Homo sapiens: one gene and its partners. Changing the gene in region 3 together with the main gene of any one other region gives a genetic interaction. Each region holds a gene or a part of one and is shown on either strand. Other genes may lie near its edges.

Region 1 (8,104 bases), on a different chromosome or scaffold from region 3:
CCTTGATCTTGCACTTTGTGGCTTCTGGAACTGTGAGAAATACATTTCTATTGCTTATAAGCCACCCAGGCTACACTGTTTTTTTGTGATAGAAGCTCCAATACACTAAAACAATCAGTGTCTTTAAAACTGAAGTGGATTTTCCTACTTCTAAACTAGTTTTTATATACTGGAAACTATTAACGTTTGCTTTTACTGTTTCCAGATCTGGAGTTGAGAAATGAGATGGTTTAGAACCTAAAGATAAAGGAAGGAGGAACCTCATCATCAGTGAATACTCTGAATATCCACAACATACTACATCTGCAGGCTTTCAACTTTTGTTGACCTCTTTGGAACTCTATAAGCTCCAGAATGAAGATGGAAAACCAGTGAGCTACATGAATTAAGTGGAACACAGATCAGCATGGTTTCAGTTCCTGGAGGATTGAACATCAAAACAAACAAGAAACAAGGGCAGCTGAAGACGGCTGTTTCCAGGCTGGGCCTTCCAATGAAACCAGCCCAGCACCCTGGAGGACCTGGGCTCACAGGCACAAAGCAGGAGATGATGGAAGATAGTACCGAGGCCAGAAAATGGCACAGAAGAGCCTAATGTGTTAGCAGTGGGGAAATGAATATGACACAGTATTACCTATTGACAAGAAAGACAACAGGCATAGCTCACTGCTAACCCTACAATGACACCTGGTACAAGCAAGGCCAGTGAGCTTGCGAAGAAGTGTGGATGCTGGGGGCTTGTCTAGGCATGGATACCTGAAGCATTGGTGCGAATGTACAAGATCTCACTCTTGGCCCCACGGATATGGTCGTTCTCCACCATGGTGAGGGTCACAGCCTTGACGTAAACGGCGTACTGAGTCCAGGGCTTCAGCCCATGTAGTAAGATGCCGGGCTCCACGTCCTTGTTGGGCGGGAGGTCCACGTCCACCATGTTCCAGCTGTTGGAGCCGCAGGCATCCTGCCCATCATACTCTGTGACATTCTTAAAGGGTCTGAAAGACAATTAAGTTCAGAGAAAGTTCGGGGCTCTGACATCAAAACCCTCAAAAATCTTCCCCAGAGGCCCAGCATGTCACACTTTCTATAATGGGAGGTCTAAATAAACAAATAATCAATTAGACTTTTATAGAAGAAGAAATGAAGTGACTGGACTCTGGGCTTCCCCAGTCGGGCATTACAGAATTGAATGGTCTGCCTCAGGAAGAGCCACTTCAACAGTTACTGGGATTCAATAGTTACTATTCCTTAAGAACATATGCAAAAACTATTTTTCTCTCTTCTGATTGCAGCATTTTTTCATCAAGAAAAAAACAAGCATAGTCAGTTAATGCAAATATCAGATATTGAAAGAAGGTAACTGTTGGAGAAAAATGACTTTCCTACAGACAAACAGAAGTAGCTTCTAAAATTCAGATTGCTCATAAACAATTCTGATGCTTAAGCATCTTATAATATTCAAATATTTAGTTTCCAGATTGCCTTAGAAACCAGCATCAAGTCCTCAGTGAAATTACCAGCTGACATTGCCAAAGCACTGGTGTGACTATCAGAGAATATAGTACTTCGCACAGATGCATGGTTGGGTAGGTATTTTATATTTATCAGCTAAAAGGGCTGGACAGCTGCTGGCCGCTGGCTTCTGAAACAAACATGAACAAAACACCGTCTGCTGTCATGGGATGGGAGATCATGAGGGGCTCCCCTGTGTACAAACTCTGAAAGCCTAGTAATCCTAAGTACCCAATTTCTCATTCATAGGACCCCAGCTCTGGCAGGAGGAAAGAGTACAAGATGCTGTCATAAGGTGCCTCTGGTTGCTGCTCTTTGGAAGCCACACATCTGGGAGAGAGAACTATGGGATTAACATGGGACCTGGGTAAGGGGGATGGCTAAGTAGACCGGGGTAGCCACCTGGATATAGAAGGCAAAGGAAGGAAGAGGGAGATCAAAGAGGGCTGCAGTCGGGAGGAATAAGCCTCGGCTGCTTAGATGGGGGAATGTCATGTGATCACACAGGAAAAGCTCCCAACAGAGTCTAGGAGAAGTCACAAAAGGCTCAAGACATGAAGGTTGTTCTCTCTCCACTTTTCTTCGCTTGTTTGGAAGGCTCATGACCTAGAGCAGAGGGCCACAGCTTGGGAGAGGCACACAGAGAGAGAGACAGGAATAAGATGATACAAAAGAGCCACGTGCCTGCAGGGTGTTCCTGGAGTAGGCCTAGTAGGTAAGGAGGCTGAAACGATATTTCAGTGAAGTCCCCCATCATCGTTCATGAGTCTGGACTGACCTAATTCTGGAAAAAGCAAGCTTTCCCCATTTTGGGTTTATTTTATTCAAACACCTCTAATCACTCACTAAAGAATGACAGGCCTCGAGCTAACACTTTCCCAATCATGGCTGTCACTGGCTGTGACTGACATCACAGGGACAGCCCGAGAGGGTGCATGAGGATGAAGTAGGGATGTTTGGCGTGGCTCTCCCTGGGGACTCTGCTGACCCCCTGTATTCAGCCAGCCCATTCAAGGATCGAAAGACTGGCCTCTCCCATTCGTAGCCCTGTCAACAGAATGGCATCACCCAAAGCAGAAACTCACGCTTCCTTGTAGTAAACGGTGAAGCTGATGAGATCCCTGTAGTCAGGGGGCCGGTACCGGTGCCAGGTTATGATGATGCGATTCTTCGACGTGGTGGTGGAGGTGAAATGCAGGACGTCACTTTCACCTGGGGCAAAGAGTACATCCGTGAGTGACAGAGATTCATGTGTCTCTGAAAAGCACCTGTCTTGCTTGGCACTGCTTCCCCCTTCCCCAAAGCTGGCTGTATATGCTAAGTTCCCTTCTGGGCTTCCTCAGTGGCTTTCTCGTTTTCCACTAAGAAATCATACATTTCACTATGCAGAGCTCCAAGGGCTCCATCCTTTGTTTTAGGTCAATCAGTTACGCTGGCTACTTGCCCAGGGACTTGGACATGAACCTGGGTTTCCTAACCTGAAAACAAGGGGCGACTTCAGTGAACGAGGTGAACTTATCTTTCTTCTCCATCCCTAAGATCCTGGCTATGAAAGGGGGCCTGGTAGGGTGAAGGTGAGCCTTTAGGCTGCCCTGAAACTTCTTAAGAGAGACGATGACACTTGTTCTGCAGTTGTGGATATCTGCCTGTTCGTGTACAACCACCAAAGACAGGTAAGAGACTACAGGTGTGCCACAGAAAGGAACTTTTCTTGGTCTAAACTTGGTATCAAACTGGAAGGACACAGGAACTCCTGTGAGGCCTCCAGCTAGGGCTGACAAACAACGGGAGGCTGGATTAAGCACTGACAAGAAGATCTCACTTGGCCAAGCCTAACGTGCTCTATGGGAAGTAGCCTGGCTGGCGGGTATGGCAGGGAAGCTGTGCCAAGTGTCTCTCTTATTCCTTGGACCAAATTCAAACTACGATAAGGACCAGGGAAAGACTGATGACTGCCCACCCTCATGGAGACCCAGAGCTCTCTGACGAATTGTCCTTTCGCCCTCTTATCTGCCTGAATCCCACTACACACTCAAGAGGTGAAGCAGAGGGACTGAAGACAGTAAAAGAGCTAAGAAGTCTTTAGGACAAAATGTGCGCAACTGAGATTGGGAAATGTCACAGTTCCTGCTGAAGTGTTATTTAGAGAGGAAACCATGATTTTGCTTTCAAAAGAAAATAAACGGCTACTATGTATTATGATCTGACAGGTCAGACTGGCTGACTCTAAGGAGACAAGCACTCTGAAATACTCGGATACATCCGATTTTACTATGATCTGAACAGGGAGCAAGGCAGGGGCTTTGCAGGGATAGAGTGAGCAGGGGGCGGGAGGCGGCGCTGGTCGTCAGCCTGCTGTTCAGCCCTAGGTCAGTCAGCGTGCTTCCCTCTAAGATCCCCCAGAGCAACAAGTGTCGCCAGGTAAATCCAGACACCAGCGAAACAAGCCAAAGCCAAACACGCATCGGTTCTGATTTGCCTCCCTGCATGTGTGTCTGTCTGCACACACGCACAAATCACCCTTCATCATACAAATTACTTTTTTTCTAATACCCTTCCCTTATTAAAAGCCAAAGGTGAAAAGACGATTTACTTTTATAACCCTATCCAGCCAGAGAGCCACGCCATTCTCAACAGCCGTATTCTACACAGGGTTAGATGAGAAAGGCACTGCTGTATCTCTGATATGAGACCTTAAAGTTTTATAAACAGTACAAGGCTGTAATTATATTGTTCTCAATTTAAAAAGCAATATCAACTCAGGGCTGCAGGCTCACTCCATCTTTTTCATGTTGGGGTGGGAGAAACAAGGCGGCCGAGTGTAAGGGACAGGAAACCCGTGGCCCACAGGGGCTGCGCTTAGGGCAGAGCCCCCTCCACCCCACAGGCCTGTGCTTCCCTTCTGTGGGAGCAGAAGGGTAGAGCTCATAGGGCTGAAGCACACTGGCTCTTCCCTGAAAAATAATCGGACAGGGCATGGTGGCTCAAGCCTGTAATCCCAGCACTTTGGGAGGCTGAGGCACGTGGATCATTTGAGGTCAGGAGTTTGAGGCCAGCCTGGCCAACATGATGAAATCCCGTCTCTACTAAAAATCCAAAAATTAGCTGGGCATGGTGGCAGGTGTCTGTAATCTCAGCTGCTCGGGAGGCTGAGGCATGAGAACCGCTTGAACCGAGGTGGAGGTTACAGTGAGCCAAGATCATGCCACTGCACCCCAGCCTGGGTGACAGAGTGAGACTCCATCTCAAAAAAAAAAAAAAAAAAGAAAAAAAAAGAAAAAAAAGAAAAGAAAAAAGAAAGAGAAATATCTAACTGTGCACCTGTGTATAAAAGGACATTTAACTGTGCATTCTGTAAGCAGCACTTTAAAGTTTGAGAACCTACTTATAAGTGTTTCACACACTCACAGAGATGTACAGAATTTATAAATACGAATACATCACGTATCTGCCCACTACTGATTGTGATGACATATAAGTAGGAGCAAAGTGCTAGTTAAGATGGTCTAGTGGTCCCCCATGTGAAACCAGGAGGGGCCGCAGAGGAAAGCTGCCATCACACATGGGAGGAGGGTCTGCTGTTATCATGATGGTTGGGCCCACGGTGTTTTGGATGCTGTCACTCACAGGAGGCTCTCTCCCCGTTGTTCCTGGTGTTTATGTCCCCTTTGCTTTGGCGCCCTTTAGTCCCCGTCACTTCCTCCATGCGGTAAATTTCGGAAACACATAATTTGGGATTGAAAGCAAAGTACATTTTCCCTGCTTTGATGGTCAGGTTGCGGTGGTCCCAGTCCCACAGTTGCTGCAAGTTCTGGTTGTCGAGGACGTAGAAGGAGTAATTCCTAGAAGCACAGAAATCGATGTTAGCGCACCTGCCCTTGGCCACAGTCCCCTCTAGCCTGCTGGCCACGTAACACAGGTCCTCTTTGCCACCTGCTCCACAATACATTTCCTTTGCCAATAAGAGATTTAGTTATTAACACTATAGGAGAACAGACAGTTGCTGTTAACAATGGCAGCAACATGATTCAAGGATAACATATCAAAATCGGTAAGATGCTAATTAATTCTATGACCACTATTACCATCAAATAATGCTTCTTGTACCAGAGGATGTTACTAGAATCATTCCCAAGAAATGCCTTTGGTTATTTTTCTCAGCCAAGTATGTACAACGTGCTTGAAAGCAGTCCATGAGAGAACAGACATGCTCTGCTACCCAATCGGAACAGCGTACACTTTGCTCTAAAGTCTCCCATTATCCATGGAAGTAAATCCTGCCCAATCAGCAGCATGATGGGATAGGAGACAGCATGAGACAGGGAGACAAGCTTGTGGGGGGTCAACCCTGGGCCTTCTCCCTCCCCCATTCATCTTTCATTCTGAGCAGCCCCAGCTCCAGTCCCTGGAGGTGTGGGGGAGGAGGAAGAGCCACTAACATGCAGTGCTCTTGGGCCTCTCATCCAGGCAAGAGGACTCGGAGTCCAACACAGTGGTTCTCCAAGTTCAGTGTGCACAAAGCTTGTTTGCAAAGGGCTGGGCCCCACCCCCAGAGCTTCTGATTCAGCTGGGGTGGGCAAAGAATCTGCATTTATCACAAATCCCAGGTGGTGCTGACCCCTGCTGTGGTCCCTGGACCACACGTGGAGAACCAGCAATCTAGGAGAGGCTGAGTTCCAGTGAGGTGGTGGAGGACCAAAGCCCACCAAACCAGACGTGGCTTCTGCCCCAGAGGGTGTGCACACGAGTAGCAGATCCAACCAGCACAGGAAGCCGTTCTATCTGGCTACCCAGGTGGCAGGACAAGTCCATCCCTGGAGAGGCAAGAAAGCAGACAGCTACGGCTTAGGTCTAGAGAAAGATCCCCGCAGTGGGCCTTTCTCTCTGGCTTCCCCAGGAAGGCAGCAGACAATGCCAGGGTTGACTTCTGAGTCCTCTGTGCTGATGGGCCTGATCCCCATGGACCGTGAATCCTTCTTCTCCTCTTCCTGCTCTGCTTCTTACTAAGTTTGGGAATCAGTGCAGTACTTTGAGTGACTTCTAAGATCCACTCACAGATCTAATGTATAAACACACAAAGGAGAAAGAACCCCAGCCCTCCCTGCAGAGCCAGCGTAGCCAGGACAAAACAGAACCCCTAAGGCTTCGTCTGCCCTGGAGGCTATGTCCATTGGGGATCTCTCTGCATCTGGTGAGGGTCTTCATTTACACCCAAACCAGGACCTCTAACCAGCTGGTCAATCCTCAGCCTGATTCTCATTTACAGTAAAGCACAAATTATGGTTACAATGCTGCCAAGCAGCCCTGTGACATTTTCCTGAACATTCACAAAGGGACGTCAGACCAGGAAGGAGTTCAGAGACTGGGACCCAGGACCAGAAATGCCATGAATGAGCTGCACAGCCATGCGCAGATCCCTTAGTGCTATCTGTAGCCCTGTTTACTCACTCGTAGGACAACAAGGGGAATGCACAGGTGACATCTAAGCTCCCTGTCTACTTTAAGAACGACCAGAAGGAGTCACAGAGCCACCACGGAATCTGCATCACAAGCCTGAAGCCCAACCCTTTCCTGAGCACTGGGCTCTCTGTCCACACAAGTGCTGGGGGTGGAGGTTGGAGTCCTGCCAGCACAGGGGTGCAGTGAGCACACAAGTGAGTCGAAAGACAGAGCCTCTGAAGCTAAGTCAGGCTCCTCACACGCCCATCTTCAGGCCTCTGGACACATTAGTGACCACCAAACCGGTAGCAAAAACTTGTAAGTCAACAGTTCTTTCCTTTCAGTAAGGGCTCCCTCCTGAACACACAGCTATCCTGGAAAAGCAGCATAAGACATTGTCCAAATGATCCCAGATCTGGTCAATGCAACACAAGGTGTGTTTCCTGGGGAGCAGTGCCAGGATATGGCCCAGCTGGCGCTACTGTTGCTGGGGGTAGACCCCATCCATACCTGCTGTTTCTCACTACCAGGCTGCAGGTGACACTGCTGGAGGTCAGAGGGGCTCCATGCAGTCATACAACGGAAGGAGGGATGGAGTGGAAATGGATGTGTCATAAGCCCATTCTTGCTCATAGGTTTCTCCAGCTCCAAAGGAGACTGCAGCGATGCACCCCCAAATGTCGGGCTGCTTCCAGGTACCTGAGTTAGTTACAGGACAAAATCTCCTTGTTGATGAAGAAACCTCTGGGCTGCCGGTAAGGACCAATTAATCAGGCCAAACTTCCATCTACACCCAGAACCAGGCCTCTTTTCATAAACTAATTTCACTAGCAGGGAACGGAACCACACCAAAAATACCTTCTGAACAAAACATTCTTCTCCCCCACGGGAGGAAGCATGAATTATAAACCAGGAATTTGACAAATGAATGGCAGGCACACTGAAATTCTGTGTATTTGACTAATCACTTTGAAAAGCAAGATTATCTTTTTACAGTAAACACAAACATTTTTTACAATCATTGAAGAGGCTGGGAGCCAGGATACCAATATCAATAAAACCCAGGCATTATGGAGCCTGTGGAAGCTAAAGAAAAATAAAAATAAAACCCTTGTCAAAATAATAATCAAGCCATTCATGAGCTGCCTGTCAA
Region 2 (5,740 bases), 4.4 Mb from region 3:
GCACATCTCTTAGCCCGGGCCACCTAGGTCGAGGCTGTAAAAATAAGACGTTTCTCCAATCTGTTGTCATCACTTCCTTTAAGGCAGGCAGCATAGTATAGTATTAATAGAAAGATCGCAGTCCTGAAGGGAGACAGACTTGAGTTCAAAACTCCACTTTGAAGCTGAGCAGCTGTGTGACCTTGGGAAAGTAGAAGTAATCTCTCTGAGCCCGTGAAATGGATCCCAGAAATGGTTATTTAGAGGATTGAATTAAACTAGGTAGCGTCTGTATGTAGTACGCACTAGATAAGTGGTAATTATTGTGACTGTGAGGGTGTTTGATGTGGTCATTGGTTTATTCCTATGTAGGTTGACTCATATTTACTCATACCTTGCCAGGCCAATTCATCTATGATAATATCCTGGCCTGCTGGACCAGTCAGGAAATCAGTCTCACAGGGATTGCTCTGTCTCCCTTGAGGTGGGTTCAGGGAATTGTCCTCTTCTTTTCCTCGTTGAAGGCAATGTCAAGGCCTTTTCTGCACATCATCCCGCAGACTTGACTTCCTATGGAGATGTTTGGACCGGTCAGCTTGGTGGTGGGGTGTGAGTCCTTCTCAGAAGATTTCTACTCTCCTCTGGTCCAGGATGTAGGAGATCCCAGAGGATAGGGCACTCTTGGGCCCGCAGAACAGAATGGAGCCATGGAATTCTGTCCCTTTTGGAACATGATTGCCAGGGGTCAGCAACAAAGGCCATAGCTTTCCTCCTAGGCCTGGCTTCAGGCTAGAAGTCTCCCAAGGGCTAGGGCAAGCTGCTGCCTTGCTGATATGGTGGAAAAGTGATGATAATGTTCAGTGATCAGTTGGGATTCCAAGGGCAGAAATTGAGCTTTGCTGGAAAAGGGTGTTTTTGAGTGGGTGTCTCCTGGCTGAAATGGAATAGGAAGCTTCATTCCCACCTGAGGAGGGCACCACAGGCCTCCTTATCCAACTTGGTGCTTTCTGGTGCTCAGCCACAGATCTAGGATGGTTTCAGATAGATCCTCTAGGAGGTGTTGGGTAAGCGAATTTCTTCCTTCTTGGAGTCTGGCCACAGATTTCTGAGGTATCCTTGTCCATGGTGAGGGAGTGGCAGTGGGTAGAGGGTCAGGAAGGCTAGTGGAAGGGAGAGGCAGGAGTCCTGGGCAGCCTCAAGGAGGCACTCCCTGAAGTGGTTGGGCAAGCCTGTGGGAAAAAGAGGCATAGCTGACGTAGGGGGTAGTTGAGGCCTGAATTCCTTTTTTCTATCTTGGACTGACTTAGGCAGGCTGGCCTTGTGTAGGTGTTGTTACCCTGCTTTGGGGCATCAGGAAGGGGAAGAGTGACATGTCCCAGGTGTGCATGGCCAGCAGGAGGCCGTCCTTTTCACTGCTCAACAGTGTGCTTCTCTCTAATCCAGGATACCTGGCTCTCTGGTTTGGTTTTGTTTTTTCCTTCTCTATGGCAGCTCCTAGGCCACCTTTAGGCAGCTGGCCTTCTTCTGGTTGAAGTTTGAAGTACTCGCTCAAGTGATGCTTGGGCCCAGGGTGGGAACCTGTATATGGGTGGGTACCTGGGAATTGGAGGTTTGCTGGAGGAAGGATGGTTTGGGGCCTGAATTGCTGGGCAGGTGACTGCTACGCTTGGGAAAGATGGGTGGGAGGAGAGTGTGGGTACCCTGAGTAGACCCAGTGGAGTTTGGAAGGATCTTGCTTTCTTCATCAGGTAGCCAGCCTTTTTTTTATCACCACATCCCAGTAATACCAACATACATTTGGCATACAGTAGTCTGGAGATGAAGGCAGGCGGTTTGCAGGGCCTTCCCAGGTATCTGTTGCATCCATGGCTCCTGCCGTAGCATTCCAGGGCTGCCATTTCCTGTCAGGTGCTTGATGTTGCACTGATTGTCTAGAACTTGATTCAGCAGGAAAGAAGGGTGCCCGGAGTTTTGGGTTTGAGCACCTTTTTAGCTGGGTTACCTGTGCTGAGGGGAGTGCCCTATCCTGATGAGAGGCAAGAGGGCATGGGGAGCTTGTCTGGATTTGAGCCATACCATTTTGGCCTGCCTGTTTTTTTTTTTTTTTGTCCCTGCTTACTGAGCCCCAGATGTTTGCCACCTGCTTTGGCTGGTAGGGGCAGGGGAGTGTGGTCTGTGTATGCATGCAAAATATGAGTCCTCTAGCCCATTTTCTAAAAGTGTGTGTGCAGAAGAGGTCAACAGTTTTTCTTCTCTTTCACTGTCTCTCCCCCCCGCCCACGTGTATGCATGTATGTATGAACATTGATGTCTGGTGTAGTGCAAAGGCCTTGGATCAGAGGTCAGAAGACGTGGGTTCTTGGCCCCACCACTAACTCAGCATGTAATTTTGGAAATTTCACTTTTTTTCTCTGAGCCTCACTTTCCCCATTTATAAAATGAGAACATTGGTTTAGGTTACTTTAGGTTGATTTCACCACCCCAGCAGGAGCCAGGGCTCTGGGAAGGAGAGGTCTGCATAGGAGGTTGGAAAGGGGTGTTGGAGAGGGGGTTCTTCACAGCTGACCTTTGGGCAGGACACAGCAAGCTCCAACTTGGCAGAGCAGAGTGTCTCCCACTTTCATGATCTTTCCCTGACTTCCCTCCCCAAATCCTCCCATTCTTTGCCACCACAGTCAGGCATCCCAGCACTTACCCCCACCCCCTGGGGCTTCCTCCCCTGCCTCTTCCTGTACCAGGCAGGTGTATGAGAGAGGATCTACAGGAAGCCTTCCAGACTGGGTGAGTGATACACATACTTGCTCCCTGTTCCTTGCTCTTCCCTGCAGTGTCTATCTCAGGCCCTTTAAACTGAGAGAACAAACATTAAAGGCCCAAACCTTTACGTCCTGCCACAATCGGACCTGAGCTACCCTGCATGTGTATTGTGAGGTGTGGTCAGCCTTAGATGTCAGGTCATAACGGTGACTCCTTTGAATAACATTTTCATTTGAAAACTAGTTTTAATTTTCCATATTGGTCTGGCAAGGAAGCCAGGGCTAGAGTTCATATTCCCACCTCACAGATGAGAAAACAGGTTCAGAAAGCTAAAATCTCATAGCTAGTAAGTAGCGGATCTAGAACATGAACCCATATCTTCTGACTCTAGATCCTGTGTGCTTTCCAGTACTCCCAGGCCTGTGTGTCCTACAGCACGTGCCTAGGGGATAAGGAATTAATGTGGGTGTGGAGAAGGTTTAGGGTCAACAAAACAGAGGCTCCATCTCTTAATTTCTTGAAATCCTGGCACTGTACTGTTGGGTGGGACTCAGGAGAAGTTTCCTAGGGCATGTGCATGGGGCCTTGGGTGCAGACTTGAGGGGCTGCTAGACTCTTGTGAGTTCTGGGGGGAGGTGGGGGTGGGTGGTTGGGTAGGATGTTTGCAGGTTAAAGGGTCTGGAGTGGCTAGAGGTTTGGGAAGGTGCCAGTGGGATTCCGAGCTGCTTTTGGTGACTTCCGGTCTTACACTATGCTGAGATAACTCAAGTCCCTTTCCCCTCTCTACCCTCTCAGGACTGGCAGCCACCCTTTGCTGTGGAAGTGGACAACTTCAGGTTTACCCCCCGAATCCAGAGGCTGAATGAGCTAGAGGTGAGAAGACTAGGAGCTGGTGGTGGGGTTGGGAGAATGTATACCTGAGTTCTAATCCCACTTCCCTTATAGTTTCTCTGGCTGAGGTACTTTACCTAGCTAGGCCTTTATTCTCTCTTCTGTGAAATTGCATTACTTTAGTGTGCCCAGGGCGTGGAAGAAGCTTTAGAGCTCTAAATATAACCAAGAGCCAGGGGCATTTAGCATTTGTGATTTGATAGCCCAAAGGCTGGGGACATATATCCCTTTCTCACAAAGGTTTGCTACTTCTGAAACTCCCCTGTAAACTAGCCTACCCTAGCTGAGTCAACAAAAAGGAATTATGGAACTGGCTGATACCCCTTCTTCCTTGGCCAGCTGAATGTGGCTTCATATATCCAATTCATCCACAGCCCTGTGCTTTCTACTTTGCTTCCATGGGTGCTTGGTAAGGTGGGAGTTTGGGTAGATGGGCAGAACAACACAAGAACTGGGCTCTGTGGAGGCTGGAATGGTTAGAGACTTGGCCAGGGGTCAGGCAGGTAGGATTTTCCTTCTCCCTTTTGTTCTGTACAGGAAGTCCAGGCCCTTTTCATGGACAGGTGGGGTTTTTCCTGCTTGAGAATGCCCTGGGGTAGTGAGATTAGGTTCCCTAAAGCCAGTTCCACGTAAGATCCTGGAGTTTTCCATGGCAGCTCTAGGTTAGGCATATGTTGCCACTCCCTCCCCCATTATTATGTACCCACAAATCTTAATAGATGTCCAAGGGGTGGGGCATTAGGCCCAGGCCCAGCTGAATACTTATACCCTAAAAGTTCACTTGTGTTCTAGACCAGAGTTCCTCAGCCTCGGCACTATTAACATTTTGGGAAGCTAAGGTGGGAGGATTGCTTGAGCTCAGGAGTTCAAGACCAGTTTGGGCAACATAGCAAGACCCCATCTCAGAAAAGAAAAATATATCTTGTCAGGTTTATAGGGGTACAGCTTGGGCAAGATGTTGCCTAGCATGACACAAGGGCAGGTTTTCTGTAGAGGGAGTGCTGACTAATAAGAAGGAGCAGGGATGAGGCCAACTTCAGAAAGCTAAGGGGCTGAGGTTGAAGGAGCACTTCCTTGCCCTTTGAGAGTTCTCACAGCCAAGGAACTGTAGGTTGTTTCTTTCTACAAATAGACCTTAGTTTTTCTCAACTATGAAATGGAAAGAGCTGTCTTTGTTCCCCCTAATGGGATCAGGGCAAGGTAGTGAATGGTAATGACTATCTAGTTCTTCCAAGAACCAGGCTCTCTGACTGGAGTGAGGAGGTTGTAGACTTGGGGCCTATGGGAGTCCTTCTTGGTTACTGAGATTTCAGGGAAGCATCATACATATCTTGTTTCTAGTCTCCTTGGCCCACATTGGGTCCTGGGTTGGCCAGGTGCTAGTGCTACTCTGATATACCATCTCTTAGTTCTAGGCCATTCTGTCTATAGTTATAGCATGCACTTTCACCCTTTAGCCACCATGGAACAAGTTTGGTGGTACATAAGGAGGTGCATGTGCCTTTTTGGAGCTTGCTTTCTCTGAAACATGCCTAGAGCTTAGATATAATTCTGAAATCTGCAGAGGATCTTCACTGGTCCCCTCATTAAGTCTACCCCTCTGGGGTAAGTGGACTGTGCAGTTATTTTCCTTTTATAATTATTAGTAAAAGGAAAAAGGAGTCCACAGTGGAACTGATTTGCTCAAGGCAGCATAGCAAATCAGTAGCAGAGGGAGAGCCAAAGCTCAAATTATTTGGCACCAAAATATCTTGATGCTTGCTGTGTGTCCTAACTCCTCTGAGCCTCTGTTTCCTCATCTGTATAGGAGATGATAATACTCACATGACCTTGTCAGGGAGATTAGAGGACATATCTAAAGCTTTTGGCAGTTGTGACCCTCTCTATTGGGACCTTGGGCTTCTCTGATTGACTGGAAGGTGACAAATGAGAGAGAGGTGGCTGGGTGCAGTGGTGCAGTGGCTTGTGCCTGTGATCCCAGCTCTTTGGGAGGCCGAAGTGGATGGATTGCTTGAGCTTAGGAGTTTGAGACCAGCCTGGTAACATGGTGAAACTTCATTGCTACAAAAAATACAAAATTAGCCGGGCGTGGTGGCGTGCGCCTATAGTTCCA
Region 3 (8,104 bases):
GATGAGCAGTTAAATGAATTCCATTGCCTCTGGGATGACAGGTGAGGCTGGGTCCTCCAGGCTGTCTCCAAACCACAAAAATACACACACTTAGAGCCCATTAGCAAGAATAAATCTTTTCTTACCCCAGCCTGGATACTGGAAGCAGATGATTTGGGGAGGTAGGGCTCACACTTGAAAGGGTTCTTTTATGTAGCTAACAAACATTTATTGAGTGCCTATTGTGTGCCAAGAGTTGGTGATACAAATGTACCAAACAACAGACAGGGGTCCTTCTCTAGGAGCGGATTGATGAGTAGGAGGGCAGATCATTAAACAGCCAACAGCAGTATGAGGTGTTTAATGAAGACAGACTTAAGACCAGGGGATTCAAGGGTGTATAATAGAGGATCCTAAACTAGTATCCGGGCTTCCCAGAAGCCTTTATAGAGGAAGAGACGTTTGTACTGAAACAGAAGGATGAAACCTCCCGTTTGCTTTACTTTTCAAAAAGAATCAGCAAATCCTTTTGGCTATATGTTCAAAATATATTCACCATCTGACCTCTCCTCACCACCTCCACTGCCACCATCATCATCACTCACCTAGACTTGCAGAGGCCTCCTCCCTGGTCCCCTACTTCCAACCTCACCTCTATTATCTGTTCATGCAGCAACCTAAAAAAATATGTATGAGTTGATGTCTTTGTTAAAATACTTTAAGGAGGCCAGGCATGGTGGCTCACGCCTATAATCCCAGCACTTTGGGGGGGCCAAGGCAGGTGGATCACTTGAGGTCAGGAGTTCGAGACCGGTCTGACCAACGCGATGAAACACTGTCTCTACTAAAAATACAAAAATTAGTTGGGCGTGGTGGCACACACCTGTAATCCTAGCTACTTGGGAGGCTGAGGCAGGAGAATCGCTTGATCTGGGAGGCGGAGGTTGCAGTGAGCCGAGATTGTGCCATTGCACCCCAGCCTGGGCAACAAGAGCAAAACTCTGTCTCAAAAAGTAAAAATAAAAAAAAAAAAAGTACTTTAAGGGCAAACTGTTGCCCTCAAGGTAAAGTCCAAATTTTTCATCCTGGCCTCAAAGGTTCCACATGATCTGGCTCCACATCACTTTGTGACCTCATCAGCCAATCCTTCTCGCCCACACTACTCCCCTTGTTCTTCCAACATGCCAGGCACCCTCTTGCCTCTGGTCTGTACCCTGACCAACCCCTTTCCCAGAGATTCTTTTCGGTCTTCTACTCTTCCAGCTGCCTTTCACATCCCAATGAGACTTTCTCAGAGAAGGTTTTGCCTGGCCAAACCCTACCCCAATACCTGATCTTATTTTCCTAGCCCATGACATTGTTTGCTAATTATCATACTTGTGTGTTTACCAATTAATATCTATATCCCTTATCCCAACCTAAGACTAACTTACTATGGGAAAAAGACTTCTTTTATGGAATACCTATTTACCATCTATTGAGGAGCTAGGGATACAGCAGTAAACAAAACAAACAAAAGCCTGTGTCTTCAGGGTAAAGGGGGAAGACAGACAATAAATAAACAAAAAGTAAATGATGCACTGTGGTAGAAAGAGCAGTGTTATGAAGAAGCAGTAAAGGGAGGATAGTAGGAGAAAGTACAGTGGAGGAGACTTCAATTTTAAATAGGCTGGTCAGGGAAGGCCTCACTATTTGAGCAGGGATCTGAAGAGGTGAAGGAGTAAGTCATGGAGACAGTTGGAGGAAGAGTATTCTAGGCGGGGGTGGGGGGGCCAGCTAGAGTAAAGTTCTAGGGCTGGCTGAAGAGTATTTGGTTCAACTGAGAACCAGGGAAGAGACCAGTGTAGGTGAAGCGAAGCAAAGGAAAGAGGGAGGGGTAGGAGATGGGGTCAGAGAGGTGATGGAGGACAGATTGTTTAGGGCCTTCTGGGCATGGGTAATACTTTGGCTTTTACTCAGAATGGGATGGGAGCCTCGAAGGGACATGAACTGATTAGGGTTTTAACCAGTGTCTAGCTGCTATGCACAGAAAGGACCGTTGAGGTGGCGAGGGTCGAAGCAGGGAGGCCGAGGAGATGCCGCCACAGCCCAGGCGGGAGGGTATGGTAATAGCAGTGGCAGTGGTGAGGAGAGGGTCACACACCAGAGCTGATGGGAGGCAGGACTGACACCACAGTTTTGGGGTAAGCAGCTGTGGAAGGGTGGATGGGGAGATGTGGAGAGAACAGATGTGGAGCTCCCCAGTGTCCTCATGCATCTGTGACTGTGACTCCATCTCCCCAGCTTCCCGGAAGGCCCTGAGCGGCTCCATGCCATCAAGGAGCAACTGATCCAGGAGGGCCTCCTAGATCGCTGCGTGTCCTTTCAGGTAAGGCCCCCAAGCCAACACTCTGGGTGAAGGGCAGGGAGCTGACCTGACCTGGGTGCAGCCCATGCCTTAACCCTTTACCCCACTTTATTCCTCATCTCTCCCCAGGCCCGGTTTGCTGAAAAGGAAGAGCTGATGTTGGTTCACAGGTGAAGGCTTGGGAGCCTTGTAGGGATGGGGAGGAGCCTGCCCTGGACAAACCAGGGCAAGCTAAACGCTTTGGGAAGCAATGTCATGGTCTCTGCAGCCAGCCTTGGGCAAGTCGCTGAGCCTTTCTGAATCTGTGTCATCGCCTGTAACAAGGGGACCAGTAAACATAAGTTCCTCAGGAGAGTTTGATGTGTGTCAGGTGCTTAGAACAGGGCCTGATATATAATCAGCCCATGATGAGCTATTACTGTTATCATGATCTGATTGTGTGAATAGATGGTGGATGTGTGGACAGAGTGATCGGGGTTCCCCCAGGGGCTTCCAGATTTAGAGGCCTAGTGCTATGTGGCTTGAGGAAAGCTAGCTTCCAGAGCAGGTATCTGAGCTGAACTTTAAGAGGAGAAAAAGAGTGAGTCAGATGAAGAGGGTGACTGAGGGAAGGGAAGAACAGACAGCTGAACCAGTGTGGCCAAAGGCCTGAAAGTAGGATTTGGTGTGGCTACTGCAGGGGAGCAGAGAACATTACCTGAACTGAGGCGGGCTAGGGAAGAAACAGAATGTGTCTTATATCCTGGCTATTCCTTCAGGTTGACAGTTGGGGGAGCCAAGCCCTAATTTGACCAGGGGGTTGGTGTATGGACAGCTCAGTTGGGGAAGAGACAGGGCCCTGAATCTCATCTCCCATCTGTGTCTAGCCTAGAATATATTGATCTGATGGAAACAACCCAGTACATGAATGAGGGAGAACTCCGTGTCCTAGCAGACACCTACGACTCAGTTTATCTGCATCCGGTATGGATGAGAACTCTGCGGGCAGGGAATGGTGGCAATCTTGGGGTCCCCATCCCTATGCCCACCCCACCCTGGGGGAAGCAGCTGAGTGGATAGGGCTGTTCTCTCCCTTACTCCCTTTCTGGCTCCCCACTGTCTCTCCAGAACTCATACTCCTGTGCCTGCCTGGCCTCAGGCTCTGTCCTCAGGCTGGTGGATGCGGTCCTGGGGGCTGAGATCCGGAATGGCATGGCCATCATTAGGTAGGACTCTACAGCATTTGACTTTTTACATTGTTTTAAAGTCCTTCCTTCAAGTGTAAAATGTATTGATATGGGTAATATATTCATGTGATTCAAGAATCCAAAGGTAAAAAAGAGAATATAATTAAAAATCTGTCTCCCATCCTTGTCACCCAGACACCTGCCTCCTCTCATGGGAGGTAGTCATTGGAACCACTGACTCATGTGTCCTCCCACAAAGTCTTATTCAAGAAATAAATACCATATTTCATTGATTCTAAGGTGTACATTTTTTCATATTTGTAACATCTTGAAATCCAGATGCATCTTACAAACAGTGACATCTCAGAATTCCATTGGCAGTATTTTCTGCTTCGTTTTTGGCATGTAAAATCATGGTACATCTTATCATCATTGGCATCCCAGAACTGATGAAATGCAAAAGCTTTCTCCTCCCTCCCCTGTTTTTAACCACAAATGGTAGTAACATGACATACTCCCTTCGTACCATCTTTTCACTTACACATCTTGGAAACCTTTCTCTAACAGTATGTATCTTGGAGCCCGGTAGAACACCATTGTGTAAATGCACTCTATGTTAATCAGTCCCCGACTAATGGGCATTTTGGTTCTCCCCAGTCATTTGCTGTTTTAAAAAAATGCTACAGCAAATATGCTAGTACCTTTATAAAAATAAAATTTTATTTTACACTAACATAAAATAAAAATGTTACTTCACCCTTTTTAAAACACAGGTTGTGGGCTAAGTTCCTGCAGCAGAATGACTGGGTATGAGAATGAATGCGTTGATCATTTTATTTTTATTTTTATTTATTTATTTATTTTGAGACGGAGTCTCGCTCTGTCACCAGGCTGGAGTGCAGTGATGCAATCTTGGCTCACTGCAACCTCTGCCTCCCAGGTTCAAGTGATTCTCCTGCCTCAGCCTCCCAAGTAGCTGGGACTACAGTCGCCCGCCACCACACCCAGCTAATTTTTTGTATTTTTAGTAGAGACGGGGTTTCACCGTGTTGGCCAGGATGGTCTTGATCTCTTGACCTCGTGGTCCACCCACCTCGGCCTCCCAAAGTGCTGGGATTACAGGCCTGAGCCACCGCACCCGGCCTTTATCATTTTAGTGAACATTTTCAAATCTCCTTTGGAGACAGAGGGGTAGATTGGCAGGGGGTGAGAGTTTGAGGGCCTCCATTACTCAGTTCCCGGCAGATTTTTAGGCATCAGCATTAAAGGAATTGGTGGTCCAGGATTAGAGAGCAGGGGACAGTCTGTCTCTGCAGAGGAGGACCCCTCACATACTCCAAGCTGTTATTTCCTTGTCTTGCCCAGGCCTCCTGGACATCACGCCCAGCACAGTCTTATGGATGGCTATTGCATGTTCAACCACGTGGCTGTGGCAGCCCGCTATGCTCAACAGAAACACCGCATCCGGAGGTCAGCAACAGAGGGCAGATGTGATGGGGGTGGCATGGGGTGGGGTGTCCTGGTCTGGGCTCTTCCCCCAGATTCACCTTGATCTCCTTGCACAGAGTCCCCTCTCTCTGCTGCTCCTAGGGTCCTTATCGTAGATTGGGATGTGCACCACGGTCAAGGAACACAGTTCACCTTCGACCAGGACCCCAGGTATACCCCGACTCCCACCTAGGTGCTAGACTCCCAGCCACCTCCCACCCTTACAGGCCCAGCCAGAAGGGGTCCAGAAGGAGGAAAAGGCATTCACATTCATGGGGCCTATCCTGGGATCAGGATCTGTGCTACTTTTGTGTGTCTGCCATCTCTCCTAATTTCACTCTGAGGCAGGGACTGTTGGGTTCCCTATTTTACAGATAGGGGGACTGAGGCTTATACGTTAAGAGGTCACACAGAGAAGAACTGGGAGAGACGGGATTTGACCCACAAATATTTGAAGATCTTATTCACTGATTAACCGTTGGGTTAGAGTGAACCTCAAATTACTGCTTTATTTTTTCTGATTAGGATAATGCTTCAAAGTGTTTGTTTATCCTTTCAGTAGATAGTAAAAAACAAATATAAATAAATAAATAACAAACTATTTGTTTAAAGAAATTAAATAATACAGAAGTGTCTGAAGCAGTGAGTCTCCTCTAATTTCCATTACCTCAAAAATAAGTGTTGACAGTTTAGGTTATATCCTTACAGATTTTCTCTATAGATGTCTGAATTTTTATTATTATTGTTATAATTATTAATAACACACTGCCTAATGGAATAATTCTCCACATGTTCTTCGACAACTTGCTTTATTCATTTAACAGCATATCTGGGACATTTCTCCATGTTAGTACCTCTTAAAGTATCTCGTTCTTTGTAGTATTCAATTTTATGACTGTACCTCTGGTTATTTAACCCCAGGACTTTTAAGATGCCTGCCAGTTTTTGCTATTACAGGCACTTCTACTGTGAATAGTCTAGTAAATATGTAATTCTGCACTTCTCTGAGTCTATCTGTAGGATGAATTTCTAACAGTGGGTTGCTTGGGCCAGAGAGTCAGCATACTTTAAAGTCTGGTATACACTGCCAGACTTCCCTCCAGGAGGGGACCAGCTTACCCTTCCTGCAGAAAGTGATTGAGCAAGTCCTTGTCAGTAGGAGACATTACTAAGTACATGTCGAGTATCCCTTATATGAAGTGCTTGGAACCAGAAGTATTTCACATTTCAGATTTTTTCAGATTTTGAAATATTTATATTATACTTAGTGGTTGAGCATCCTTAATCTGAAAACCCAAAATCCGAAATACCCCAATGAGCATTTCCTTTGAGCATCATGTTGGCCTTCAAAAAGTTTAGGATTTTAGGGCCGGGTGAAGTAGCTCACTCCTGTAATCCCAGTACTTTGGGAGGCCGAGGCGGATCACCTGAGGTCAGGAGTTCAAGATCAGCTTGGCCAACATGGTGAAACCCCGTCTCTACAAAAATACAGAAAAATTAGCCAGGCGTGGTGGCACACACCTGTATTTCCAGCTACTCAGGAGGCTGAGGCAGGAGAATCACTTGAACCCAGGAGGCAGAGGTTGCAGTGAGCTGAGATCGCACCACTGCACTCCAGCCTGGGTGATAGACTGAGACCCCATCTAAAAAAAAAAAAAAAGTTTAGGATTTTACAGCATTTCAGATTTCAGATTTCTAGATTAGGGATGCTCAACCTGTAGTAGTTTTATCTAGCCTTCTTCCTAGCTGACTACAGAGAATCCACTTATCCAAGATCTGAAGAATCCAATTTAGGTTGGTTGTTCTCTAGACATTGCTTTATTATTTTGCAGCATTCAGTGTTCCTGACAGGTGTCTGCTTTTCATTCCTTTCCAAGTAATCTACTTTCCTCTCTGCAAGGTTATCTTGGTGTTCTTTTTTTTTTTTTTTTAAATTATTAGACAGGGTATCACTCTGTCACCCAGGCTGGAGTATAGTAGCATGATCATAGCCCACTGTAACCTCAAACTCCTGGGCTCAAGCAATCCTCCTGCCTCAGCCTCCCAAGTAGCTAGGACTGCAGGCATGTGCCACCACACCCAGCTAATTTTTTAAATTATTTGTAGAGACAGGGTCTCACTATATTGCCCAGACTGGTCTCGAACTCCTGACCTCAAGTGTCCTCCCACTGCAGCCTCTCAAAGCACTGAGATTACAGGCATGAGCCACTGTACCTAGCCTTGATGTTCTAAACTTTTACCCTGGCCTTTTCACTCTGTTTAATAGTAGGTAGACATTTTACATCTGAAGATTCATGCTTTTCTTAAACTCTTGGAAATTATTTTCTATTAGATCTTTGATAATTTCTTCTTTGTTTTCTCTGTTCTCTTTCTAGGACTTCTGTTAGTCAGATGTTAGACTTCCTGGGTTGATCCTCTATGTCTCTCTCTTTTTTATTATTTATTTATTTATTTATTTATTTATTTTTTTTGAGACAAGGTCTTGCTCTGTTGCCCAGACTGGAGTACAGTGGCACAAATACGACTCACTGCAGCCTCGACCTCCCGGGCTCAAGCAATCCTCATGCCTCAGCCTCCTGAGTAGCTGGGACCACAGGTGCACACCAGCATACCCAGCTAATTTTTTAATCTTTTGTAGAGATGGGGTCTCACCATGTTGCCCAGGCTTCTTATTTTTTATCTTATGTTTTCTGTCTCTTTTTTCTTTTGCTGTGACCTGGGAGATTTTGTCAACTTTATCTTCAAGCCCTTCTGTTGAATTATGTATTTAGATATCCTGTTAAACTCCAAAAGCTCTTTCTTCCTCTCTGTTTCTATGTCCTCTCATACCTGATCTTGTTTTTATAGAGTATGGATTAGAAGTGCCGGCTGGGTGCGGTGGCTCATGCCTGTAATCCCAGCACTTTGGGAGGCCGAGGTGAGTGGATCACTTGAGGCCAGGAGTTCGAGACCAGTCTGGCCAACATGGTGAAACCCCATCTCTACTAAAAATACAAAAATTACCCAGACGTGATGGTGCGCACCTGTAATCCCAGCTACTCAGGAGGCTGAGGCAGGAGAATCGCTTGAACCCAGGAGGCGGAGGTTGCAGTGAGACAAGATCATGCCACTGCACTCCAGCCTG
Region 4 (7,098 bases), on a different chromosome or scaffold from region 3:
AGAAATATAGGAGAGGGCTAAAGTTCATAAACGGTCGAAATACACTGTTTGTCTATAGTAAGTCGATATTCTCCCAGTTGCACATTATTAAGTATTCTTAACTGTCCACTATAAATTATTGATTGTTAGACTTTTGAACTTGTAACTGTAATCAAGGCCATTTTAAAACTTGGCATTGAACTCTGGAATCTGTCTTTCCTCTTCATGGAAAGACAAAATTGCTGAAGGGATGCTTACAGGCATTTTTTTTTTTTTTTTTTTTTTTTTTTTGAGACAAGGTCTGACTTTGTTGCCCAGGCTGGAGTTCAGTAAAGTGATCATGGCTCACTGAAGCCTTGTGCTCCTAGGCTCAAGCAGTCCTCTCACCTCAGCATCCCAAGTAGCTGGGATTACTGATGTGCAGCACCACACCCAGCTAATTTTAATTTTTGTAGAGAAAAGATCAATCTATGTTATCCAGTCTGGTCTTGAACTCTCTGCCTCAAGCGGTCATCCTGCCTCAGCCTCTCCAAGTGCTGGGACTACAGATATGAGCCCCTGTGCCTGGCTGAGGACTTTTAAACTATACAAATAAACTTTTTTTTTTGAAGGTCTCAAGTGCACTTTTTTTTTGTTTTTTTTGGAGACAGTCTTACTCTGTCCCCCAGCCTGGAGTGCAGTGGCGCAATCCCAGCTCACTGCAATCTCTGCCTCTCTGGTTCAAGCAATTCTCGTGCCTCACCCTCTCGAGTGCCTGGGATTACAGGTGCATGCCACCACCTTGCCTAGATAATTTTTTGTATTTTTGATAGAGACGGGGTTTCACCGTGTTGGCCAGGCTGGTCTTGAACTCCTGACCTCAGGTGATCTGCCCACCTCAGCCTCCTAAATTGCTGGGATTACAGGCATGAGCCACTGTGCCTGGCCCTAAGTGCACTTTTAATACATTTATTAAAAGATAAACTGAGCACATAACCTATACCAAATACTATCCTGTAAGACAGGTCTACAAAAATGAATATGCTGTTCCTGTGCCTGGGGAACATGCAGAAGTGATTTCACTTTATGTTGTTTTTTTTTTTTTCTTGAGACGGTCTCGCTCTGTCACCCAGACTGGAGTGCAGTGGTATGATCTCGGCTTGCTGCAACCTCTGCCTCCTGGGTTCAAGCAATTCTCATGCTTCAGCCTCCCAAGTAACTGGGTTTACAGGCATGCACTGCCTCAGCCAGCTAATTTTTTTTTTTATTATTTTTTTGAGACAGAGTCTTGCTCTGACGTCCAGGGTGGAGTGCAGTGGTGCCATCTCGGCTCACTGCAACCTCCGCCTCCCGGGTTCAAGCGATTCTCCTGCCTCAGTCTCCCAAGTAGCTGGGATTACAGGTGCGTGCCACCAAGCCCAGCCAATTTTTTTTGTATTTTTAGTGGAGACGGGGTTTCACCGTGTTAGCCAGGATGGTCTTGATCTCCTGACCTCAGGTGATCCATCCGCCTTAGCCTCCCAAAGCGCTGGGATTACAGACATGAGCCACCGCACCCAGCTAAATTTTTGTATTTTTCTTTAGTAGAGACAGGGTTTCACCACGTTGGCCAGTCTGGTCTCGAACTCCAAGTGATGCACTGGCCTCGGCCTTCCAAAGTGCTGGGATTACAGGCATGACCCACCACTCCCGGCATTACGTTCTTATTTTAGAGATGAAACAGATCTGAGAGGTTACATCAACTAATCAGACAACATCAAGCTGATAATCAGAGGTGGAAGACTTAGGACTCCTATTCTGGTCTTAGGAGCAAAGGTCCTGTTGTTTCTCCCACCTTATAACATTGCCCTTCTTGTCAGACTTTCAAAATACATTTTAAAATGTGTCCCATGGATAAGAAAATACTTGAAAATTATCCTTAAGTTGAAACTTTTTCTTATCTTACCAAAGTAAATTAATGATTCAAGGATATTGGGATATTGTGTCATCCGAACGACATACACATGCTGATAATGTATTTTTTTGTCATTTGATTTTCAGTGGATTATTTATAAAAGTAATTTTGAACTCCTGCCAAAATGGTTGGCCCTTTTTTTTTTTTTTTTAACCTTGTCAAATTTTTATATGGTGTCTCCAATGCAGATAGGACTTTTGGAAATAAATGTTCTTTCTCTGAATTTTTTTTTTGTGGGGGAGGGTGTTTTCCAGACCTTTTGCTCACATGAGCCATTCTTGGTTTGTTCCAGCTTGCCAACACTTGGTGTCACATGTGAGCCTCCCACATGTATTCACTCTCCATTCCAGCTCTGTGATTGAACTCTGCTCTTATTGACTAGGGGGCAGTTGGGCAGGCATGCCTCATTCCTGGAATTGACAGTCATTCCTAATGTGAGTAAAGGGGAACCTCAATGAGACATCTTTAAACATATGAAAGCATTTGGTTTTAAAATGGAAGAACTGTCAGGTACTGTTAGTGCCTGAGCCTTTGCAGCAGTTTGTTTGATAGGTACAAGAGAACTGATATGCCTGTTTTCTCCAGTTCTCTTTATCTTTCTTTAGCAGTTCTATTTGAATGTTTTCTATCTATTCGTACTCATTTTTACTCCTTCTGACCCTTCTTTTCTATTTCCCCCTTCTCTGCCTTGTTCTTCTTTTTCAGTTTTGAATATACTAACACTGAATCAGCACTTCTAAAGCCCTTCCTTCTCCCACTGGCTTCACTTGGCTTTCAGACATAATGAGGAGACTGGCTTTTCGAGGCGCTGGTTGTGCTCTGGTAAAGCTGGTAAATTACTGATTATCTACACCCTTTCCCTTTTCTGTCCTTCCTTGACTTTTTCCTTCCACCTTTCTTAAATTTTTGTTATCCTTTCCACAAAGATTCCCTCCTTATGTTCATCAAATTCACTTGTGTCTTTGTCATAGATTGTTTAAAAGGGATTGGTCCTTAATTTATCTTAATGAATTGAGTCCTGTTGATCAGCTTTTTATAAAATGAACAAAAATCAGCAAAACTTGGCTAAGTTTTGGCTAAGCCTTTTGACGATTTTAACTACTTTTAGCCAACTTCAAACTAATAATACTGTATAACAAACCGAAGCCTAGAGTAAGGAACATCATCGTGGTAGATTTTGTTTTAAACACCATGTGGACTTTAGTTTGGAAAAAGAGATCTGAGACTTCTCTTTTTCCTTAATTGCTCACCAGGATTTTCAAATGTGATTCTTTTGCTCCTTCTTTCTGTTTCCTGGAGATCCCCAACCTTTCTTTCCATACTGCTGGCAACCAGTGTTCTCCTGTTCTAATCATTCAGCTGCTGGTGTCGTAGTGTCCTGAAATTCAGTGTTTCCATGTGCCTTACAATTATGAGGTACTCTAGTTCTATGAGGTTCCTCATAATTGTAAGGCACATGGAAAAGCAGATGAGGTGCTGACTCAAGAAGTGAATACCTTGGGGCCTCTGAACCCCAGGCCTGCCTGACTACCTCAGGGGCTGAAGGATCAATACCTTCAGTGTTGATGAGTGAAACTGGGATCTTTTTTTTTCTTTTAGCTTTAGAAAAAGGCCTTTGACGGGCGGATCACGAGGTCAAGAGATTGGGACCATCCTAGCCAACATGGTGAAACCCCGTCTCTACTAAAAATACAAAAATTAGCTGGGTGTGATGGCACACGCCTTAGTCCCAGATACTCTGGAGGCTGAGGCAGGAGAATCGCTTGAAACTGGGAGGTGGAGGGAGGTTGCAGTGAGCAGAGATCGTGCCACTGTACTCCAGCCTGGTGACAGAGCGAGACTCCACCTAAAAAAGAAAGAAAGAAAGAAAGAAAAAGGCCTTTCAAATCACAATATACTATTTGATAGTATTGTTAGATTGTATTGCAATATAAGCATTGCAGGACTTTCTTGGGTATATACTATCTGTAGCAGATCATTCAGTGGTTGCATTTCTTGTGTTGTAAATAGAGTTATAGTTAAAATTGTTATAGTTAAATAGAGTACGTGTTATAGTTAGAGTATGTCATATCACTAAAAGGTGATTAGTTTGAATTAACAGAAGAGTTTCAAAGGATAGTTTGTACCTCTGTCTAGGTATAGCAAGTCTCATTAAGTGTTTTCCAGGGATATGTCTTGTGGATCCTGTTTTAATGAATGGAGAACATTCATTTTCAGGGTTTTAATTTTAGAGTACATCTAAAGTGCTAGAAGGTTAATTGTCCTCTGTCCCCTTACCTTTTTGCACTACTCATTTGTCCTGGGCTCTGCTTCTTGCTCTTTTCCACATGATGGCCCACCTAGCAAATGATCATAATTGTAAGGCACATAGAGAAGCAGATGAGGTGCTGACTCCAGAGGTGGATACCTTGGGGCCTCTGTACCCCAGGCCTGCCTGACTGCCTCATGGGCTGAAGGCTTAATACCTTCAGCACACTAATGTACTGCTACATATAGGTTGGGAAACTCTAGGCCAAATTTGGAGCCAGAAGTTGAGTCATTCAAGATTGCTGATATACAAATGAATATGCTTTTGTTGAATTTGTCCCATCAAAATTGGAAGTATAGCATTCTGGTAAGTGAAAGACTAAAACAAGGAAGTCCAGGGCTTAAAAAAAAAAAAAAACTTATAGCTAGTTAAACTACAACACGTTAAAATATCCTCCTAAGTGAGCCAGGAGTTTGGTAGCAGGTGTCCAGCTGAAGACTTGGTGACAGAGTCTATTTAAATGTAAGAACATGGCTGATTATTTCTTATAGAAGAAGTTGGATTCCATGGGTTCCAAGAGAAGAAGAGCTACCTCCCCTTCCAGCAGTGTCAGCGGGGACTTTGATGATGGGCACCATTCTGTGTCAACACCAGGCCCAAGCAGGAAAAGGAGGAGACTTTCCAATCTTCCAACTGTAGATCCTGTGAGTAACTTGGATTACATGGTTTCTGCCTGCTCTTCCCACAATTCCCCTATCTTCCCTTTAATGGTAAAATTGTTACGATGCAAGGCATCTCCACTTTTTTAAGATTCTCTTGATTAATAGTCTTTTCTTTTATGAACATTATGTATTCAGCTAAGTCTTAGAGTAATAGTGTGATCTTATGAATAATTTCAGTATGTTACATCATATATTAATTCAGCAAATAACTGTGTGACTATCATGTGACAAGCACTGTTCTCATGGTTGGGATATAGCCATGTGGAAACAAGCCCATTTTTCACATGGAACTTAGATTCCAGGCGGGGGAAGTAGAATGTAAACAAGTAAACGAATAAAGAATAATGTATCCTTAGCTAGTAATAAGTGCTAAGAAGAAAATTTTGGGTGATTTGGGCTGTTTTGGCCTGAATTCGCTGGAAGAGAGTTCCAGACAGAACCAGTGCAGAGGGGTTGGGTCAGGGATGAGTTTTGTGTGTCTTGGTTACAGAGCAGGGGATGGTCAGGAAGGAGAAGGAAACTGGCAAGCTCCACCCATTCAGAGTATGTAGGGCCCACACAAGCAATGTTTGGAGTTTAGATTTTATTCTCTGTGAAGTGATAAACCCTTCTGTCAGATGGCTTTAAGCAAGAGAGTGATAAACTGATTTAGTTTCAAAGAAGAAAACCCTTCAATTGGATGACTTTAAGCAAGAAAGTGATGAACTGATATAGTTTAGAAGACAAAATCACCAGGAGCATAAATCTGATGAAAGATACCAAAAAGTTAGTCAACTCAGTTGTTTGAAAGGAGACATATTGTCAGCATATTTCAGACTTTAGCATGTTTGGTAATATTGAGAGTCATCATTTTTCTTCTCTACTTGCCTTTTATTGAAGAGTAGAAAATAATTCTTATGTCTACACTGGCTTTCTGTTCACTTTTTTAGTGATTTTTTTCTCCTTTGCTAATGTGTAGATTGCCGTGTGCCATGAACTCTATAATACCATCCGAGACTATAAGGATGAACAGGGCAGACTTCTCTGTGAGCTCTTCATTAGGGCACCAAAGCGAAGGTGAGTTCGAAGCACATCAGTACAGTTGCGGGGGATTTGGTCCAGAGTCCATGTGTATTAAAGTGTTTGGAAATTGAGCTTTTTGTTGGCAGGAATGGCTTAAATGATACTGGGGTCCAATTTTAGTCTTTAGTCTTTAGTAATCAAGCTGTAGTGAAGCTTTTTTTAAATTAAAAATCTGTTGAGCCAGGCACAGTAACATGCACCTATAATCCCAGCTACTTGATTTTTTGAGCCAGGCACAGGAGCATGCACTTGTAATCCCAGCTACATGGGAGACTAAGGCAAGAGAATTGCTTGATCCAAGGAGTATGACACCAGCCTGGGCAACATAATGAGACCCCGTCTCTTAAAAACAAAAACAAAAAAAATGACCTATGCGGAAAGATCTCTTGAGGCCAAGAATTTGAGACCAGCCTGGGCAACATAGTGAGACCCATCTCTACAAAAAATTTTTTGAAAAATTAGCCAGGTGTGGTGGTGCTCACCTATAGACCCAGCTACTAGGGAGGCTGGGGTGGTAGGATTGTTTGAGCCTGGGAATTTGAGGCTGCAGTAAGCCATGAGTGTCACTGCACTCCAACCTGGGTGATGGAGCAAGAGCTTGCCTAAAAATAAATATTTAAAAAAGAGTACTGACCAGGCACAGTGGCTCACGCCTGTAATCCCACCACTTTGGGAGGTCTATAGGTGGGCAAATCACCTGAGGCCAGGAGTTCGAGACCAGCCTGGCCAACATGGCAAAACCCTGTCTCTACTAAAAAATACAAAAATTAGCCAGGTGCAAGGCTGGGCGCAATGGCTCATTCCTGTAATCCTAGCACTTTGGGAGGCGAAGGCGGGTGGATCAGCTGAGGTCAGCAGTTTGAGACCAGCCTGGCCAACGTGGTGAAACCCCGTCTCTACTAAAAATACAAAAATTAGCCAGGCTTGGTGGTGGGCGCCTGTAATCCCAGCTACTTGGGAGACTGAGGCAGGAGAATCACTTGAACCCGGGAGGTGGAGGTTGCAGTGAGCCGAGATCGTACCGTTGCACTCCAGCCTTGGTGACAAGAGTGAAACTCCATCTCAAAAAAAAAAAAAAAAAAAAAGCCGAGCATGGTGGTGGGGCGCCTGTAATCCCAGCTACTTGGGAGGCTGAGGCAGGAGAATTGCTTGAA

Evidence for each region.
Region 1: changes in HDAC6 (region 3) and IGF1R together harm fitness more than expected from each alone (negative genetic interaction), as found in Homo sapiens cells (one large-scale study listed by BioGRID).
Region 2: changes in HDAC6 (region 3) and KDM5C together harm fitness more than expected from each alone (negative genetic interaction), as found in Homo sapiens cells (one large-scale study listed by BioGRID).
Region 4: changes in HDAC6 (region 3) and PBRM1 together harm fitness more than expected from each alone (negative genetic interaction), as found in Homo sapiens cells (one large-scale study listed by BioGRID).

What each region holds. Positions count from the first base shown.
Region 1 is NC_000015.10:98,905,935-98,914,038, reverse strand, and holds part of IGF1R (insulin-like growth factor 1 receptor isoform 1 precursor), read right to left. Parts: intron 5,355-8,104; coding exon 5,140-5,354; intron 2,725-5,139; coding exon 2,598-2,724; intron 996-2,597; coding exon 757-995; intron 1-756. UniProt on the Homo sapiens protein: Receptor tyrosine kinase which mediates actions of insulin-like growth factor 1 (IGF1). Binds IGF1 with high affinity and IGF2 and insulin (INS) with a lower affinity. The activated IGF1R is involved in cell growth and survival control.
Region 2 is NC_000023.11:53,218,708-53,224,447, reverse strand, and holds part of KDM5C (lysine-specific demethylase 5C), read left to right. Parts: intron 1-3,531; coding exon 3,532-3,609; intron 3,610-5,740. UniProt on the Homo sapiens protein: Histone demethylase that specifically demethylates 'Lys-4' of histone H3, thereby playing a central role in histone code. Does not demethylate histone H3 'Lys-9', H3 'Lys-27', H3 'Lys-36', H3 'Lys-79' or H4 'Lys-20'.
Region 3 is NC_000023.11:48,803,176-48,811,279, forward strand, and holds part of HDAC6 (protein deacetylase HDAC6), read left to right. Parts: coding exon 1-41; intron 42-2,262; coding exon 2,263-2,347; intron 2,348-2,455; coding exon 2,456-2,496; coding exon of another isoform or gene 2,497-2,500; exon of another isoform or gene 2,501-3,192; coding exon 3,193-3,289; exon of another isoform or gene 3,290-3,433; coding exon 3,434-3,531; exon of another isoform or gene 3,532-3,785; intron 3,786-4,857; coding exon 4,858-4,962; intron 4,963-5,082; coding exon 5,083-5,151; intron 5,152-8,104.
Region 4 is NC_000003.12:52,677,340-52,684,437, reverse strand, and holds part of PBRM1 (protein polybromo-1), read left to right. Parts: exon of another isoform or gene 1-2,346; intron 2,347-2,617; exon of another isoform or gene 2,618-2,695; coding exon of another isoform or gene 2,696-2,743; intron 2,744-3,511; exon of another isoform or gene 3,512-3,575; coding exon of another isoform or gene 3,576-3,578; intron 3,579-4,711; coding exon of another isoform or gene 4,712-4,726; coding exon 4,727-4,864; intron 4,865-5,840; coding exon 5,841-5,938; intron 5,939-7,098. UniProt on the Homo sapiens protein: Involved in transcriptional activation and repression of select genes by chromatin remodeling (alteration of DNA-nucleosome topology). Required for the stability of the SWI/SNF chromatin remodeling complex SWI/SNF-B (PBAF).